Homo sapiens: one gene and its partner. The protein of the gene in region 2 purifies or fractionates together with the protein of the main gene of each other region. This does not show direct contact. Each region holds a gene or a part of one and is shown on either strand. Other genes may lie near its edges.

Evidence for each region.
Region 1: the proteins of CEBPZOS (region 2) and NDRG2 purify together in Homo sapiens (co-immunoprecipitation; one large-scale study listed by IntAct). This does not show direct contact.

The regions. Positions count from the first base shown.
Region 1 is NC_000014.9:21,016,030-21,019,237, forward strand, and holds the end of NDRG2 (protein NDRG2), read right to left. Parts: intron 3,132-3,208; coding exon 3,087-3,131; intron 2,786-3,086; coding exon 2,734-2,785; intron 2,635-2,733; coding exon of another isoform or gene 2,598-2,634; intron 2,493-2,597; coding exon of another isoform or gene 2,476-2,492; coding exon 2,428-2,475; intron 2,211-2,427; coding exon 2,175-2,210; intron 2,010-2,174; coding exon 1,958-2,009; intron 1,734-1,957; coding exon 1,567-1,733; 3' UTR 743-1,566; downstream 1-742. UniProt on the Homo sapiens protein: Contributes to the regulation of the Wnt signaling pathway. Down-regulates CTNNB1-mediated transcriptional activation of target genes, such as CCND1, and may thereby act as tumor suppressor. May be involved in dendritic cell and neuron differentiation.
Region 2 is NC_000002.12:37,194,844-37,199,319, reverse strand, and holds the start of CEBPZOS (protein CEBPZOS), read right to left. Parts: upstream 2,825-4,476; 5' UTR 2,800-2,824; exon of another isoform or gene 1,970-2,799; intron 827-1,969; exon of another isoform or gene 648-826; intron 1-647.

The DNA of each region.
Region 1 (3,208 bases), on a different chromosome or scaffold from region 2:
TGATTGCACTAAAACATCCAAAATGGAATCTAGGTGACCCCCTAGGGAGGATCCTACAGGAAGGTGGGTCTCAAGATATCCTTGGGCACTTCTGTCATCAGTCTTCTTCAATTTTTTTTTTTTTTTTTTTTGAGATGGAGTCTCACTCTGTCGCCCAGGCTGGAGTGCAGTGGTGTGACCGTGGCTCACTGCAACCTCCACCTCCTGGGCTCAAGTGATCCTCCCACCTCAGCCTCCCTAGTAGCTGGGACTACAGGTGTGCACCATCAAGCCCAGCTAATTTTTGTATTTTTTGCAGAGACGGGGTTTCACCATGTTCCCCAGGCTGGTCACAAACTTCTGAGCTCAAGTGGTCTGCCCACCTCAGCTTCTCAAGTGTGTTGGGATCACAGATGCGAGCCACCTTGCCCAGCCTCTTCAATTCTTTCTTAAAGGTGGTGATGTTGGTGGTATCTCTGAAATCCTGTGGCCTTTCTCAGTTACCCATAGTTGATAAGGAAGTCTCCTAAGATCTAAATGGTTCCTCTCTCCCAGGCTTAAAAATACTACAATATCAAGGCAACACCGTTGTATTGGAAAAGAGCCAGTTTCTATGTGGTCATATTTTGTGAAGTGCCTATGCCACAAAGGCCCTCTCCCAGGGTTTATATCACTTTGAGAAGAGAATATGAGACGTGGACAGGGAGAAGATAGGAAGAGGAGCATGATGCAGGCACACCTAGACAAAGAATAATAACGGTACTCAGATTCCTCTACAGTTTATTGTTATAGCAGAAGTTGTGGGAGACGGGAGGGCACCCTCCACACATACTACAGTGTGGTCAGAGCCCCAGGGTAGCCCTTTCCACCCTATGCCAAGCCCCAAGCAGCCCAGCCCAAGCTTAGCTCCCTCCCCAGTCCCACTCTAGATGCACACTGAGCTACCAAAGTTAGTGCAGCCAAACGGCCCCAGGCCCCTTCCTGTTGCCCCAGCACCAATCCTTCCCCACACTCGTTCACTGCCCGCCAACTCCCATTCCAACTTCCTTTTTACACTGGATGTTTCTATCACATCCTGAGGACCACTAACCCACCAGCAAGTCTCCCCCTGACACACATTCACGTAGGTCCATACCCTTCAGAGTCCTAAAGGGTTAATGAGAAGCCACCTCAGCTTTGGTGAATGGAGCCCCAGCCCCAAATCCCCTCCCCTTGCAAATATGGGACAAGTAGGGAGAGTCTGATGGAGGCACCAGGACAACTACAACAACCTCTTACCCCTCAGCTATAGACACCTAGATCAGGACAGAGGATGCATATGCCCTCTCCACCTTAACATCAAAATGGGGGAGGAGGAGAATTTAGGGGTCTGGGTCCCTAAGAGATATTAGGACATCTCTTCCAGGAGCTGGGGGGAATCACGGGTTAAAGGTCAAGGTTAGGGTAGCAATCAAAGATCAAGGTCATCTCCCCGCATGATCTGCCCTTTTTCCCTTGCTTACGGTGGCCCAATGCCCCTTCAGCACCTCCCAGGTTAGCTCTGGGGGAGGTGAGGGCTGGGTCCCACTCTAGGGCAACAAGGGCCATTCAACAGGAGACCTCCATGGTGTGCCCCGGGGGCCCCGAAGAAAGAGTTCCAGACTCGCTGCTCTGGGACAGGGTGCGAGAGCGGGACCGGTTGCCATCAACGGATGCTGCACTGGTCAGAGAGGCTGTACGAGACCGGGACAGGCGAGTCATGCAGGATGAGGCCACTGTGGAGACAGCACGATGCACAAGCAGTCAGAGAGGAAGTGGGGAAGGGGGGCTGGCGACTCAGGGTGTGGTCCTTGGATTATGGACTAGTTATAACTAAGCCAGGGGATCAACGAGCTCGATTGGGCAGATAGCGGTGAGTCCAGGCATTCACCTAAAACGGTTCCACCCCGTCAGTGCCTATCTCTCCTCTAGTGCAGCAAGCTCTTGTCCCGATACTCACTGTAGCCCATGCCTTGCAGGAAGTACTTGAAGGCCTCGGTCAGCTTGCCTGGCTGCGGAAGTAAGAAGAGGCGAGGGAGACGGTGAGATGAGGTTAGAGGAAGAGCTGGAGCCTGAGGCTGCGGCACTGTGGGGCCGGGTGTGTGGCAAAGGGCAGAGCCCAGTGCCACCGGTATCCTATGTCCCTTCCCCATCCCATGGACGGCAGCGGCACTCACCTGAGTCAGCTGGGGCTGACCTCCGGAGTCAGCCATCTGTTCAGGAGAGCACCACCCAGAAAAAGTGAAACACACATAAATGAGCCATGCAGAGAGGTGGAAAGGGTCTCTCTTCCCTAGCTTCTTCACTCTAGCCCCTTTGTTTTGTTCTTCGTTCACCCCATTTGCTCCCATGCCGGGCCCTGGAGGCTTAGCAGCTGCATGTAGAGAGGATATATGACTGTGGACGGGGGCCCAGGAACAGGTTACTGACCTTGAGGAACGAGGTCTGGGTGGGGTCCAGTTTTGAGTTACATTCCACCTGGAGTAAGCAGGAGGCTGAATGAATGAGGTCACGCCCACTGTGGCGCCTCCCCCGTAAGGGACCCAGGAACCCAGACCCCAGTCCCTTTTCTATCAGCTCCCTACCCAGTTCCTCCTTACCAGGAATCAAATTCTTAGTGCCCCAAAGTTGATCTCCCTGTGCCAAACAGGACATCCCCTTGGCAAGATACTCTTCTGACCACCACTTTAGGACCCCAACCCTCCTCCCTCACTCACCCCAAAATTCCCTACTAACCACTGCATCTTCATGAGGTGCTTGGTCTCCTACCACCAGCATCACAGGACACCTAAAGACACAGTGTTGGGGAGAAGGCAGTGAGCCCCTGGCACTCCCTCACTGGCCTCTGCCTAGGAGTGCAGCTGGAAAAATATCTGGCTCCAAAGAGGAAAGACACTTCTGTGTCTCCCTGCTGATGCCACCAAGAGGATTCAAAGGGGGAAGACCTAGAGGGAAGTGATTTACCAAATAGGATGGGGTGGGACATGACAAGGAAGTTCCCTGGCAAAAGATTCTCCTTCTTCTAAGGGACACAAGCTCCTAGGGAAGATCCAGGGAGACAGGCAATGCATTATCTCTTAAAGTCTTACCTGAGGGTGATATCACCTCCACGCTCAAAGTTCAGGTCTCGGCGGCTAGAAAGGGGTTAAAAGAGTAGGAATTTTAGGTGGGCAATGCTATCTAACCAGATATAAGCTATCTCTCCCATGAT
Region 2 (4,476 bases):
TAAAGTGCCGTACAAAAGTAAGATCTTTCTCAAGTGGTTCTACACTTTCTAAAGGGCTGGAGTTCTTCATTTATTAATACAACATACACTATTACATATACTATATATTATAGATAGTATAGATATCCTATATACTGATACATACTAATAATACAACATATACTAAACTATTAATACAACATATACTAAACTGTGCCATAGTTCAGGCATTTGGAGTGCAGTGGCACAATCTCAGCTCACTGGGCTCAAACAATCCTCCCACCTCAGCCTCCCGAGCAGCTGGGACCACTGGCATGCCTGGCTATTTTTTTGTATTTTTTGTATTTTTAGTAGACACAGGGTCTCACCATGTTGCCCAGATTGGTCTCGAACCCGTGAGCTCAAGCAATCCGCCCACCTCAGCCTCCCAAAGTGCTGGGATTACAGGCATGAGCCAGTAATCTGCCCTTTCGCAGACACGCAGTAATTTTTATACAAATGGGGGCAGGGGATGGAAACTGATTGGGTGATGAACCAGTTAAGTGGCAAAACTACAGACCGGTTAGATCTTGATTGTCTTCCTTTAAAAGCTAATCAGGAAAAAGCGTTTGTGTCATTATTCTTTTTCAAATTAAAGATAAGCTAAGAAAATAGAATATAAGACTTACTGAAGACATTAATGTAAACCCAAGTTTTTAGTCAGCCTCCTTATAACCTCAAAGTCCAGAAGAGGAGAACCACTTGTTTTTCAGATTTTTCTATTGTCCTGTGTGTGCTCTTTTGTTCTCAATCCCAGCTCGCTGCTGTCAGGTGTTTACTCCATTCACTTCCGACCCCTTTTCAATGCCTGAGGGTGGGTGTAATCAAATAACCTTCCTTTTGTAGGATTATTCTGCTGATATCTTACCAGGTGGCCCTCCCCACCACCCCCCAAATTCCCTCATTTTAATAATGTGATCACCCTGGGGACCAAAAGATTAAAACTTTATTATTCTTATTTAAAAGAAATGAAGCAAAGAAATTTACAAAGTAATTCATATATAACTAAGAGGCAGTTGAGTGGTGGGAAGGGACAGTTGTTTTGCTCCATTCACTACAATGCTGTACATGACTGACAGAAAGTAAGTCATGCTCAGTACAGATGCCTCTCTTGGGGTTATTTTTTTTTTATTTTATTTTTGGAGACACGGTCTCGCTCTGTCGCCCAGGCTGGAGTGCAGTGGCGCGATCTTGGCTCACTGTAACCTCCGCCTGCCGGATTCAAGCAATTCTCTTGCCTCAGCCTCCCCAGTAGCTGGGAGCTGGGACTCCCGCCACCAGGCCCAGCAAATTTTTTGTATTTTAGTAGAGACGGATTTCACCCTGTTGCCCAGGGTGGTCCCCAACTCCTGAGCTCAGGCAATCCACAGGCCTCGGCCTCCCAAAGTGCTAGGATTACAGGCGTGGGCCACCGCGCCTGGCCTATTTTTATTTTTTTGAGACTGGGTCTTGCTGTCTCCCAGGCAGGAGTGCAGTGGTGCGATCCTGGCTCACTGCAACCTCCGTCTCCCGGGTTCAAGTGATTCTCCTGCCTCAGCCTCCCGAGTAGCTGGGATTATAGGCGTGTGCCACCACGTCTGGCTAATTTTTTGTATGTTTAGTAGAGATGAGGTTTCACCATGTTGGCCAGGCTAACTTCCGACCTCAAGTGATCCTCCCGCCTCGGCCTCCCAAAGTGCTGGTATTACAGGCGTGTGCCGCCACGCCCGGCCTCTTGGGGTTATTTTTAATGTTCAAGGAATGAACAAAGACCGCCTGCAGCCAGTTCCATTATTCAAGGAATCGAAGTAAAATTTTGTTTTAAGAGAGGGTGGTGCTAAGAAATAAAGTCCATCTGTAGGCCAGGGTTAAAAGAAAAGAAAATAAAGTGCGAATAATACTGTACGGCTGCCTTGGTGTATAGTGGTGAGCATAGCTGCCTCCAAATAACACCGTACAACAAAGTATTTACCTTTTTAAAAATACATATACGTTTTGCACTGAGGCTCTCGGCTTCAGGAGGCTGATAAAACTTCAAGTTCCTTTGCTACAGACCACCAGGGATACACCTGTCCACCCACAAAGAAGTGAGGTTTACTAGCTGCGGCAAGGGAGACACGGCAGACCAGCGCCTGCCTTCTCGGCACAGGGAAAGGCATCATTCCGGGAAGTTTAGGTGAAGTTTAACACGAAGCCGCCTCTGACAGATTCGGCGCAGGGCTGTGTGTCATGCAGTTAACATCACACGGGGCTGAGACGCTGACTCGGGGACACAAGCTCAAGCCAAATGTGCAATGCTGGGTCGGAAGCCCCTTATCCCGGGATGCGCTCCAGGGAATCGGGGCGGCCTCCCAGCTTAGCGTCTGCAGGCTACGCGGTTTCAAGCAGCAACGTCTCTCCCAGCCTAGCTGTGCAGAGGACGACTTTTCAACAGAGGCCGAGAGCTGGCCGCCTCCGCTCCCCCGGCTCCCGGCTCCTGCCGCGGTCCCACCCAGCTCCCGCTTCCCCCGGTTCCCTGGTGCCCTCGGCTGCCCTCAGCTCTCCCCTAGCCCGCGGAACGCTAGGCCCGGGCCTGCAGGCGACACGCGCGGGCACGCACGGAGCACGGCCCGGCCGCCAGACCACGGCCGCCTAGCGACCCGGAAACACTCGCCTCCAGTGAATTAAGGCAGTGACACCTGACTATCCTCCACATGCCCCCAGAACTGTGACGAGGCCCCACGCAGAAGACCGCCCCACTCTCGTCGCACTAGGGACCCCGAAATCCGACCGCCCATGGGAAGCCACTCGCCAGAGTCTTACCTGAGGTGCGTTCAAGGGGGACTGCGCATGCGCAACGGTTGGCGACGCTCCACCCCTTCCGTTGTCGGCTCCGCCCCCACATTCGTAATTACTATTAATTGTACTCTGACCGCGACCCGAACCTGACTGCCCTCTATGTACATTATTTTACGGAATGTTCGCAATAACACATGCAACAGGTGCTGAGTGTATCTCATTTTACGGAGAAAGCAAGAGGCTTACACTGCCCACAATCGCAGTTAGTAAAATCAGAATTCACATTTAAACCCAGGAAACTGACTACGTGTAGCCTGTTCTGGGTCGTTTTTCTAACACCCTGAAACTTAAAGTGTGATAGTCTCAGAGGACTACCAACATAAGCATCACCTGAAAACTTGTTAGAAATGAAGAACTAGGCCGGGCGCGGTGGCTCACGCCTATAATCCCAGCACTTTGGGAGGCCTAGATGGGAGGATCACGACATCAGGAGACCGAGACCATCCTGGCTAACACGGTGAGACCCCGTCTCTACTAAAAATACGTTTAAAAAAAAATAGCTGGTCGTAGTGGCATGCGCCTGTAGTCCCAGCTACCGGGGAGGCTGAGGCAGGAGAATCGCTTGAACCCGGGAGGCGGAGGTTGCAGTGAGCTGAGATCGCACCACTGCACTCCAGCCTGGGCGACAGAGTGAGACTTTGTCTCAAAAAAAAAAAAATGCAGAACTACTGAATCTGAAACTGCATTTTAGCCAGATCCCTAAAGAATTCGTTTGCAAAGTAACACTTGAGAAAGCGCGAAGGGGACATGGAAACAGAGAAGAGAAAAAGAATATAAAAGTATATTGAAGTACCGTGTGCAAGACAAAGCCTGGAACACCCAAAACAGGCACAGATCTACCTTCATCGAAGTTCTAGTCTAGTTAGGGGTATTTACCACAAATAACTGATGGAAAGTACACAATGATAAGGGCCTTGCTTCTAATCCGAGGAATCTGTAAAGGTTTTAGAGAAGGGGTGATAGCTGGAGCTAACTCTGTCCACGCCAAGTAAAGGAAGTGCCTCTGCAAGGTGCTCTGTGATTGCCCCAATTTTCCTAACACCCGCCCCACCCCTAGTCCAGCCCATGTGGTTCATCTGTGTAACTAAAGCATCATAAATTGTGAAAAACATATGAATTTAGGGAGAACAAAAACTTTCAGACCATATAGCAAGGCTCCACTACATTGGTTTGAAATACCAGAATATCAGTGTTAAAAGTACCAGGATGACAAAGCAAGATGAAAAAGCTATTGGGGCTTGGTGCGGTGGCTCACACCTGTAATCCCAGCACTTTGGGAGGCCAAGGTGGGCAGATAACCTGAGGTCAGGAGTTCAAGACCAGCCTAGCCAACAAGGAGAAACCCCATCTCTACTAAAAATATGAAAATTAGCTGGGTGAGGTGGAGCATGCCTGTAATCCCAGCTATTCGGAAATCTAAGGCAGGAGAGTTGCTTGAACCCAGGAGGCAGAGGTTAAAGTGAGCCAAGATCGTGCCACTGCACTCCAGCCTGGGCGACAGAGTAAGACTGTGTCTCAAAAATGGAAGGAAGGAAGGAAGGAAGGAAGGAAGGAAGGAAGGAAGGAAGGAAGGAAGGAAGGAAGGAAAGAAGGAAGGAAGGAAGGGAGGGAGGGAGGGAGGGAGGGAGGGAGGAAGGAAGG